Homo sapiens: one gene and its partners. The protein of the gene in region 2 purifies or fractionates together with the protein of the main gene of each other region. This does not show direct contact. Each region holds a gene or a part of one and is shown on either strand. Other genes may lie near its edges.

Evidence for each region.
Region 1: the proteins of SP2 (region 2) and HMGA2 purify together in Homo sapiens (affinity purification with mass spectrometry; one large-scale study listed by BioGRID and IntAct). This does not show direct contact.
Region 3: the proteins of SP2 (region 2) and SHTN1 purify together in Homo sapiens (affinity purification with mass spectrometry; one large-scale study listed by BioGRID and IntAct). This does not show direct contact.

What each region holds. Positions count from the first base shown.
Region 1 is NC_000012.12:65,837,982-65,841,635, reverse strand, and holds part of HMGA2 (high mobility group protein HMGI-C), read right to left. Parts: intron 3,118-3,654; coding exon 3,067-3,117; intron 1-3,066.
Region 2 is NC_000017.11:47,913,091-47,916,744, reverse strand, and holds part of SP2 (transcription factor Sp2), read right to left. Parts: intron 2,020-3,654; exon of another isoform or gene 1,884-2,019; intron 1,434-1,883; coding exon 1,357-1,433; intron 590-1,356; coding exon 1-589. UniProt on the Homo sapiens protein: Binds to GC box promoters elements and selectively activates mRNA synthesis from genes that contain functional recognition sites.
Region 3 is NC_000010.11:116,925,139-116,928,792, forward strand, and holds part of SHTN1 (shootin-1), read right to left. Parts: intron 2,754-3,654; coding exon 2,654-2,753; intron 1-2,653. UniProt on the Homo sapiens protein: Involved in the generation of internal asymmetric signals required for neuronal polarization and neurite outgrowth.

The DNA of each region.
Region 1 (3,654 bases), on a different chromosome or scaffold from region 2:
AAATCGGTGAATGACACTGTTGGAAAGAATTGAACTTGCTATAAAGTATAAGCCCATTTCCTATGGAAAACGCAATGATTTATTTCTTCAGCACAAGCTTTCCAGCAAAGAATGCCATTGAACGGAATGCCTTGCTGTGACTGGCTGCATACTCTACCCAACAGAAGATATACAAGCAAAGAGGAAACACACTGTCTAGAAAAAATATACAATTTCCTTTTATTTCCTCTTCTCAGTAGAACAACTCTTCTTTGGGGACCAAATCAGGGACTTGTAACAATTCACCACATAATATTTTCCATTCTCACAGCCAGTAAAAATTAGAAACCAGGAGAGTCAAAGAAAATGGCCCAGCTATTCTCAGAAAGGCAAGGATTTCTGTGGTGGGGGCCTCACATGTGCTTCTTACCCAGCAGGAAGATCTGATGCCTGAAATCCAGATCCCCCCTAAATTAGCAAGAATCCGTTAAGAAAAAAAACATATATATCCTTTAATTGCTCTATAGTTTACTCCTGCTTGGCTGAATCATCAACTGTTTAAGGATGTGTGGTGAGAAAGAAAACTGTAAAGAAAGGTAGATGTAAACTGAATGACTTCGAAGTACTAGGGCAGGCTGTAATTAACTAGCTGGCCAGATGTGGAGCCATAGGAAGGTTCGGAGAAGACAGGACTCTAACCTATGGAGGTGAATTGGTGACCATTATAGGACAGCCCAAGGGCAGAGGAGATGAAAGGCTGAGAGAGTTAAGAGGCCCCATATGATGGAGGTTAGTTTGCTGGTTAACTGCCACTGTATTCGCTTGCAATTTAATTTCATTTTAGCCACATTAATCCCATGGCTTCAAAGAACTCATCTATTTTCTATTATGTTGCCTATTAGAAAGATTATACACGTCTTTCTTATTAATTAGTTCAATGGTATGGGATGTCCTTTCAGAGTTCTGATGCTTAGAAAACAGCAGATCTCTATTTGATATGTATGCCAGTATCAACTTAGTCAACAATGTGCTCATTAGAGTATAATGGAAGCAGCAGTTTTTGACTTCCGAGTCTAAGGCAAAAAAGGCCTTGCAGCTTCCTCCTCAGTTACCAGAAAATTCCCAGAGGTAGTCCTGAGTGCATGTAAGAAGCCTGATTATCCTGGGGAGGCCATGTATGGGTGATCCAGTGCACGCACTCCCAGATCCGCCCAGATTTCCAGCCAATCTTGATAAAGCACCAGATTTGTAAGTGAAACAGCTCCAGATTCTGGATCCCAAGTATTAAAGTCATCCCCTGATGCTTGAGTCTTCCCAGTGGAGGCCCCAGACATCATGGAGCAGAGACAAGACTTTCTGCTCTACCCTGCCTATCCTTGACCCAAAGAATCCATATGCATAATAAAATAGTTTTTTTACACTATTAAGTTTTAGAGTGGTTAACTATGCAGCAATCGATAACTGGAACCATATGTACAACAAGGAAGGTGATAAACCCACTGTTTATGGAACCCACACTTGAAATATGATATTTAGTTCTAGGTGACATCTTTCAAAAGATTAACGAACAAACATGTTCAGAAAAGAATAACAAGAATGTTCCTTTATGGGGAAAAAATGAGAAAACTGGAGTATGTGTTACATACAAACACAGATACATACAAACAGTATGTGTTAATTGCCCTCAACCGTTTGCAGGGCTATCATGAGTGAAAGTGAAAACAATTACTCTATATATTCCCAGAAGGATGACCTAGAGACAGTGGACGGAAGTTACAGGTAGTCAGATGGAACAATTTTCTAATGTGCAGAGCTTTCCTAGAAGAAAGAGGCAGCCTTGAGAGGTAGCAAGTTCCCTAACTTTAAAGGTAATCAAGCACGCTAGATGATCACCACTTGATAAGTAGGTTTGGAGAGAACTAATTTAATGAACAGAAGGTTGAATGAAATATCCTTACTTTAAGGTCACATTTTAACACTGAGATGTTTTTCATCTAAAGATCATCCCATTTCCTTATGCTAAGAAATCTAATCCCAACACATGTTGAGCAGAGGAAAAATATAAGATGAATAAATTAAAAGAAAGGCAATACCAAAGTATAAATAGAAAGTGATGCAGAACTCTAGAGGAGAAAGGAATGGCAAACAGGAACATATAATCCAGCATAACAGAAAAAAAAAATCTTTTTAAAATTTGAAGCATGAAGAAAGAATTGAGGAAGAGGAAAAAGCAAAGCCAAAGAACCCATCATATGCAACACTGGGTATAAAGGATGCCCTCATCCTTCTTGAGAAACGATTTCATTCATTTTTAGGACTTCTTTTCTCCGTCAGTGGGAAAGACAGACCAGAAGAACATGGGTAACACAGCAAACAAGGGAACAAAGTTCAAGCAGTAAAATTAGCAAAGCTCTTCAGTGACCACTGAATTTCTGGCCTCAAAAGATACAGGATCTGTGTGCCTATAGGATCAGGTGCACTTGTATGGATACAGCTATCTCTAATGTTTGCATGTGGAGAATGACTACTAAGGGAAGCAAGAAAAACTCAAAATAAACCCTTGCTTCCTAACAAAGCCATGTGAAAAAGAAAACACAAACCATCTAGAAAATGAGATGTGTCCAAACAAAAGCCATGGAGAAAACCAAAAAAAAAAAAGAAAAAGAAAAAGAAAGAAAAAGAAAAAAGAAAAACGTTAAAAAGTTATCACATACACATTGTGTATGAATTTTAACACCATTTGTAATCAACTTCCAAGGCTTCATAATACCCTTTAACTTTAGTTACTCAATCTACTGAACAAATCATCTCATTGTTACCCTATTTGAAGGAAGAGTGGAGCCTCTTTTGATGTTGATAAGAGATAGAAAAATGAGTCCACCTTCAGGAAAGAAAAGTGTTCTACGTAAACACCTGGAGCCTAGTGGTAGGAAGTGATGATAATTTGTCTCTTGACTTAACCCTTTCAAAGATTCATCAAACCAGAAGTTGGAAATTCATGTAATCGACGAAATAAAACTTTTCTCATTTAATACAACAGAAATTTTTCTTTAAAAAAAAGAAGAAAAATTATATCTTATTACTCACCCATTTCCTAGGTCTGCCTCTTGGCCGTTTTTCTCCAGTGGCTTCTGCTTTCTGCAAATGAAAAAGGAAGTCATTATAGTTTTCTACCTGACATTGTTTATAAGTACTGCACCAAGGGACACATTTGAAGTAAGAATGTTCTGCTTTGCAGATGACGTATCGGTTTTTTTTTTTTTGTTTTTTTTAACAAACTTCGTCTCCTCTAAGGTTAATCTTTTTCCACATTTCTGAGTAGATTCTTCTTCATTGCATGATGTAAAGAGGTATCTATGCAACCCCTCGCCCTAAAAGACACCCCCTGTAGTGATCTCTTCTGAAATACATGAAAATGCTTTTTCAAAAGCTATTTTGCTTTTATTTCTGTCCATATTAAAAACATTATCCCCACATTCTGTAACTACATAAGTTAGTATTTTAGAAAATTAATATTTCTTAAGATGATCAAGATTCTTTCCATGTCACAACTAAAGTTGCAAAAATTAATATTGACATATTACTTTACAATTTACAAAGCTCTTCTACCTATATTGGTAGTCAAAAGCAAGTATAAATGTGAAAAAGAATACACAAGCATTCTAATTCAAAATA
Region 2 (3,654 bases):
TGTCACTGGCGTTCACAAGGTTGTTGACGGGCAGAGTGAGCGTCACATTGCCGCCCCCACCTGTCAGCTTCACCACATTGGCCCCGCTCTGCACGGGGGTGGTGGTCGTACTCGACTTCTGGATGGGGGCTGGCTTGATGGGGACAGGCTTGTGACTGGACGGTGAGGGGGTGATGATGGCTTGGTTGGTGCCAGGGATGATCTGGATCTGGTTGGTGAGATTGGGCTGTACTTGGATGGTTTGGGAATTGCTTGCCTGAATCTGAGGGACCGCCTGGTACTGGATATTGGCATTTGATCGGGTCCCTTTGTTGATCATGGTGGGATTCTGGATAGCGAACACCAGCTGCCCTCCAGGATAGGAGGCGCTCAGTTGTGACCCCTGAATCTGAAGTATATTTCCTTTGGAGGACAAGATTCCAAAGCTATTCTTGCCGGGGCTGAGAGGGAGAGGGGCAGGTTTGATAGGGACAAGTTTCCGCGGTGTGGGCTGTGGGGGAGCAGGAGGTGTCACAGCAGCTTCAACTGCTGGAGGGCCAATTTTGCTACATGTTGCAGCAAGCAGGGCTAAGGGAGATGGCTGGGAGTCCTGCAAAAAAACAGCAGAGAAAAGGAGTGAGACAGGAAGGCCCGCTGCCCGGCCGCCTCTGTCCATGATCCTCTCCTCCTGGCGGCATTCCACGCCAGTCTTCCCCACCTCCGGGGCAGGCATGTTGCCAGTACCCTCCCCTGCTTGGCTGCTGTCTCCCCTTCTCTACTGGTTTCTCCATTAAGTGAGGGAGAAAAGGTGGGCAATGTCTTTCTCAGGAAGGAACCCCTGGCAGCACCCCACAGACAGGGTAAACTAACAGCACGAGCTGACTTCCTACTCTCCGCTGGCCTTGTTTCTAAGGACAGTGAAGCATGTTTGGCTCTCAGATGGAGTTTGTTAGCCCACCCCAGGGACTGAGGGGTCCCTGATTGCTCAACTGAGGAAAGGAGGGAGGAAAAAATGGAGGGGCAACAGGAGGAATAAATACTTCAGTAAAGTGCTTTTTAGTACTCGGAACATGTAACTTTATAGACTGGGGAGGGCTACACTTTCGAGACAATGAGAAAGCCTCTGTTTTCCTTTTCCTTTTTTAGTGAGGTCTGGTGGAAGGAACACAGAGTTTAATCCTTGTTTTTCCCCCTGGCCCAACTGCGGCACCTTAGGTAAATGGCCATAGTTTCTCAGTAAAGAAAATGTGGCTAACTGAACCTTCCCCAGTCTCATAACCTAGGGTATTTATAGTGAGACAGTGAAGAGAGAGTGTTTTCGGTGAGTCTGTCCAGGATGCTGCAGCCCCAAGCCCTCGGAGCCCACTGCCTACTCGCCTGGGTGGTGGAGGCGGCAGGCTGCAGGTAGTCACTGGGACTCACAGCAGCAGTGGCAGCCATGCTGGTCTGTGGATCTGTTGGAAGAAAAGAGATGGAGTAATGTATAAAATGCCCAAAAAGAACGCAAGCCCACTTGCCTCAGATTTTCTTTTTTTCTATTTTTTTTTTTTTGAGACGGAATTTTTGCTCTTGTTGCCCAGGCTGGAGTGTAGTGGCATGATCTAGGCTCACGGCAACCTCCCCCTTCCAAGTTCAAGCAATTCTCCTGCCTCAGCCTTCTGAGTAGCTGGGATTACAGGCGCTGCCACCATGCCCAGCTAATTTTTGTATTTTTAGTAGAGACAGAGGTTTCACAATGTTGTCCAGACTGATCTCGAATTCCTGTCTTCAGGTGATCCACCCGCCTTGGCTTCCCAAAGTGCTGGGATTACAGACATAAGCCATTGCACCCAGCCAGATTTTCTTTTTGCCTCTATTTGTTGCTGCTTCTCCAAGGGAAGTTAATGACTTTTCCCCAGACTTACCCACCCTGGGTTGATAGCCTTACATCTATTTCAGTAGATTACTTTCTCCTCTCCTCTCCTCAGACTCAGCCATCTGAGGCTGTGAGGACAGCTGGTCCTGCTGTCGTTGGACTGCCCCCTCCAGCCACCACAGAGTCTGAGATAACACAAAAATAACCAAGATTATACCAGGACTCTCTTCTGTAACTCAGCTATGCCCTCTCTGCTGGGCACTGCTGGCTCTCCATAGCTAAACTGGAACTCCTCTATGGTGGGCAGGGGGGAGCTCCCCAGCTAATCCTCTAGCTCAAACTCAAGCCTCCTGTTCACTCCTGCTGTAGACAGATGCCAAAACTGGGAGGGAAGTATCGCTCAGCCAAGATTTCTGACAAGGAGGACACACCTGCTCCACTGCCAAGTCTTGGGTGTTTTATGCTCAGCCTTCACCACAAAGGCCGTTGTCCCCAGGCAGCATATACAGCACATGGGTCAATTCTTTTTTTTTTTTTTTGAGAAGGAGTTTCACTCTTGTTGCCCAGGCTGGAGTGCAATGGCACGATCCTGGCTCATTGCAACCTCCACCTCCCAGGTTCAAGTGATTCTCCTGTCTCAGCCTCCTGAGTAGCTAGGATTACAGGCATGTACCACCATGCCCAGCTAATTTTTGTATTTTTAGTAGAGACAGGGTTTCACCATGTTGGTCAGGCTGTTCTCAAACTCCTGACCTCAGGTGATCCACCTGCCTCAGTCTCCCAAAGTGTTGGGATTACAGGCGTGAGCCACCATCCCTGGCCTCATGGGTCAATTCTTTACTTGAATTTACGCTTTTACATAGTACAATAGGCACGGCCCCACAGGCATCAACCAAGACTCAGTAGAGCTAATGACTAACTGGATATAACAAGGAGAATGAAAACAGAGTAAATTCTATTTTTGTTTAAATGTGTATATATTTCTATATATGAATATAATCAAATAGGAAAAAGTCTTAAGCCATTATCTCCTAGCGGTTGAGTTTTGTTTGACTTAAACTTATTTTGCACCTTGGTTTTCTGTACTTTTTCATTTTCCCATGATAAATATATTCTACTGTACTTTTTTTCTTAAATAAAGAAAAATAAGGTTGAGGAAGTAATGAAGGGACTCTCTACTGTGCACTTAAGTCATCCAAAAGAGGCTAGGTACAGTAGCTCATGCATGTAATCCTAACACTTTGGGAAGCCGAGGTGGGAAGATCGCTTGAACCCAGGAGTTCAAGACCAGCCTAAGCAACACAGTTAGACCCCGTCCCTAATAAAAATTTTTTAAAAAGAAAGAAACACAGTATCAGGAAAACGAAAGTCATGAGAATTTTAGGAGAAAGAATCTATACCATCTTAAAGTGCATAAATCACTAAGGAAAAGAACACCAGGCAGAGTCAGACTTCAATCCTGGACCTCTGGAAAGCAGATTTCAGTAAGTACAGAAATAAGAGGGGTATTACTTTAAAGACTAAAAGAGACAAAAAGGCTCAGGATGCATTCTGCTTGGAAGGCTGAGATGGAAGGATCACTTGAGGCCAGGAATTTGAGGCTGCAGTGCCCTATTATCACACCTGTGAATAGCCAAAACACTCCTGCCTGGGCAACATAGCAAGACCCCATCTCTTAAAAAAAAAACAAACAAAAAGGCGCAGGGGTTGAGTCCTTGTAAGGAATTTGGCAAAAAGAGGATAGATATTGGGCTGGGTGTGGTGGTTCACGCCTGTAATCCTAGCACTTTGGGAGGCTGAGGCAGGCAGATTGCCTGAGC
Region 3 (3,654 bases), on a different chromosome or scaffold from region 2:
GCCTGAGATACTTGGTTAAACACTATTCTGGTGTTTCCATGAGGATGTTGTGGATGACATTAACATTTCAATCAGTAGACTGAGTAAAGCAGATGGTCCTCCCTGAGGTGGGTGGCCCTCAGCCAATCATTTGAAGGCCTAATTAGAACAACAAGGCTGATCCTCCCTCAACTAACAGGGAATTCCTCCTGCCTGACTGCCTTCTAACTGGGTTATTGGCTTTTTCTTGCTTTCGAACTTGAACTGAAACACTGCCACTTCCTGGGTCTTGAGCCTGTCAAACTTTGGAATAAAACTACACCATAGGTTCTCCCAGTTCTCAGGCCCTTAGACTCAGCCTGGAACCACACCATTGACACTTTTGGGTGTCCAAGTTGCCAACTCACCCTACAGATCTTGGGGTTTGACAGCCTCCATAATCACATGAGCCAACTCCTTATAATAAATCTGTATTTATATCTGCCTATATCTGTATCTATAGATATACACATTCTATTGGTTCTGTTTCTCTAAAAAAAGCACTTAATAGCCTCAACCCTCTCCCCATGAACTATATCTGCATAGAACCTGTCCTACTTTCACTACCACTGGGACAAAGTGACCAAGGTTTGCCTTCTTCCTCTTTCTTCTATCTATTCTTGGAGTCAAATGAGTGGGAAGAGAAGGGAAAAGCAGTAAGCCACTTAAGCTACAGGCCCTAGTCTTTTTTTTTCTTCCCACTTTCATTTCTAACCATGATTTACATCAGGATAAAACAAATAGATCAGGAACAAAGTTAGAAAACTTTGATTTGTGAATTCAAAATCCACTCAAACTCAATACATGTGCAAATATACCTCTTTGACAAGAAAGCACTCCTCACAAAAAAAAAACTCTTTTCTTTAAAAAATTATGTCCTATACTATTTAAATTCATCTTAAAATAAAAATCATATTATTCAATAAAATTTTCTTTAAAGAGCCTTATAAAAGAGTTCACACTTGAGACACAAATAGTCCTGAACATTCGTTTCTCAGCGTAACTGTAAAGTGCTCTTTGGGAAAAAAAATTCTACTTAGGTTATACTTTACTTTTAATTCTAGGGGCTCTCAACATTTCTGAGAATAAAAATTAAAGGCCAACAGCAAGACTGTAATTACTTTTTAATCGTTCTCCCTCTTCATGGACAGAAGTGACCTTTCTTATCAGCTCAAAATCCCAGACCTTAGAGAAAGATCAAAGTGATGAATTTCCAATTTTAAATGTCAAATCCAGAATATCTCCTACAGATTTAGCTACCCAGGAGAGAAAGATTTTAAAATACCTGAAATTCTTTCAATTGACTCTTGGATCGATCACGTGTAAAAATTATTTTGCCTTAACTACTTCAATGGCTTAAAGTAGATTATGTCATACCCTACTCAGTAAGGAAAACTAATGAGAATCTTTTTAAAAGGCAAAGTCCCATTTTCATAGTTGTGTGGGAGGAACATGCTACGCATTCTATTCAGATGGATCAGCAAAGGTGCAAAGTATGAATAAATGGCCTCTCTGTGTGAAAGGATTAAACAAATCACATGAGTTAATGAAAGGTTTAAAAAAAAAAAAAACCCTAGAAAAAGTTTTAAAATGCCATTTGTTAAAGAATAAATTATACAAAAGCAGCTAACATCATGACATGAGCATGTAAGCTGTCACCATGGCAAGGAGGTTGTCTTATGTAATTCTAGATGGTGGCATGTGGAACCACAAAAAAGGCAAAATTTGACTCTAAATCTCCTAGTGTGTATTGTGCTCAAGTGATGTACATAATGCCATCATGTCACCTTAGGCTTCAGAAAATACGAATTCCTGTCTGCATATGTGACTTCCTGCCACAAGAATTTAAACATAATCTATCTTTCTTATGGACGGTTCCTCTCTTAGCATTACTAAAGGTATAAATATGAGGTTAGGGATAAAAGTAATTAATACTTCTAGTTTAATTACTAGTTTATAACAATTAGCATGTTTACGTTTTCATTTAGTATTTTTATTTTTAAAATAATTGAACAAACCACAGCTTTTCAAATTTGAATTAGCAAGACAGAAAAGTAAACACATTCTGGAAAAGCTCAAAATTCCTTGTTCTTACCATTAAAGGAAATCTTAATGTTATTGAATGAAATTTGTATACTACAAGAAGGGAATAATATATTGGCTTGTTAGGCCATTCTCATGCTGCTAATAAAGATATACCCGAGACTCGGTAATTATAAAGGAAAGAGGTTTAATTGACTCACAGTTCCACATGGCTGGGGAGGCCTCACAATCATGGCGGAAGGCAAGGAGAAGCAAGTCACATCTTACATGGCAGCAGGGAAGAGAGAACTTGTGCAGGAGAACTCCTCTTTATAAAACCATCAGATCTCATGAGATTCACTATCATGAGAATAGCATGGAAAGACCCACCCTCATGATTCAATTACCTCCCACGATACGTGAGAATTGTGGGAGCTACAATTCAAGAGGAAATTTGGGTGGGGACACAACCAAACCATATCACTGGCCTTTAGAAAAATTTCCAAGAGAAGCATCAGCTAGTATCTTTCATGCTTTTAAGATGACTCCTCTTATGGCACAATCTGATGGAGAAGAACATTTGATGCAGAGCAGTCTTCCTGGATGTGCTTACCGGATAGGATTGGGAGGTGGAGGGGGAAGTGGTGGTGGAGGAGGAGGTGGTGGAGGTACTGAATTCTCAGACTGGTTCACTCGTTTCTGGAGTTCATCAACTGCACAGAGAGCAAACATTCAGAAGAGAGCTGAAATAAGCAACTAAACATTGTTTATACATGTGAAAAAAAGAACATAACCTTTCTCAAAAGTAAGTTCTTTTTATTAAGGCAAAATTAGAAATTTCAATATGAAATTACAGACCTTTTTAAACTTTTCACTATCTAGTCTATTGCTAATGCAAGAGAGGACTCCTATCCATCAATATTAAATGTTATCTTTTTGCTGTATATACAACTTTAGAAAAGAAAAAAATTAAAAACAATGGCTGAAGGGTAGGAAGGAGTAGGCTGAAGAAATATTTGTTAACAACGAAGTATATGACTCAAACACTAAGAAATTGTTAATACTTTAAAAGTGTACAGACCAAGAATTAATTTTAAAGATGACATTTAGTAATGAAATTTAATAGCTGCATACTTCTCTCCCCTGCTTAATTTCCTTCAAAAACTGCAAATACTAGAGTCTTTGATTTTAACCAGATTCAGCTTCCTAAATCTGTAACTCAGAAACTTTTTGCTCTTTTGAAGAGATTTCTGGAAATGTATCGTATTCCTTCAAGTCTTTCATGAGGAAGGCATTTTACTAAGCACCAATGATGTGAAAGTGCCTATGAATGGTGCTACAGGAGACGTAACACCTGACTTCAAAGAACTGAACTTAAGTTGATATCACAGGTGCTAATACCTATGAGATAATGGGTAAAAGGTGCTGCATACTGTTGGCACTCAGAGGTAGCTCTCCCCATCCACAGCCATTCCACTTTCCCCGACTGAGTGTACCCTCAGGGATCTGTCCATTTGTATTTACCCTCAACACTTAAATAGGCAGTGTGGGCTATGCTCTCCAAAACTGAGAATCCTCTAGTCTTTTTATGTGCATGCACCTATCCCTCCAAGG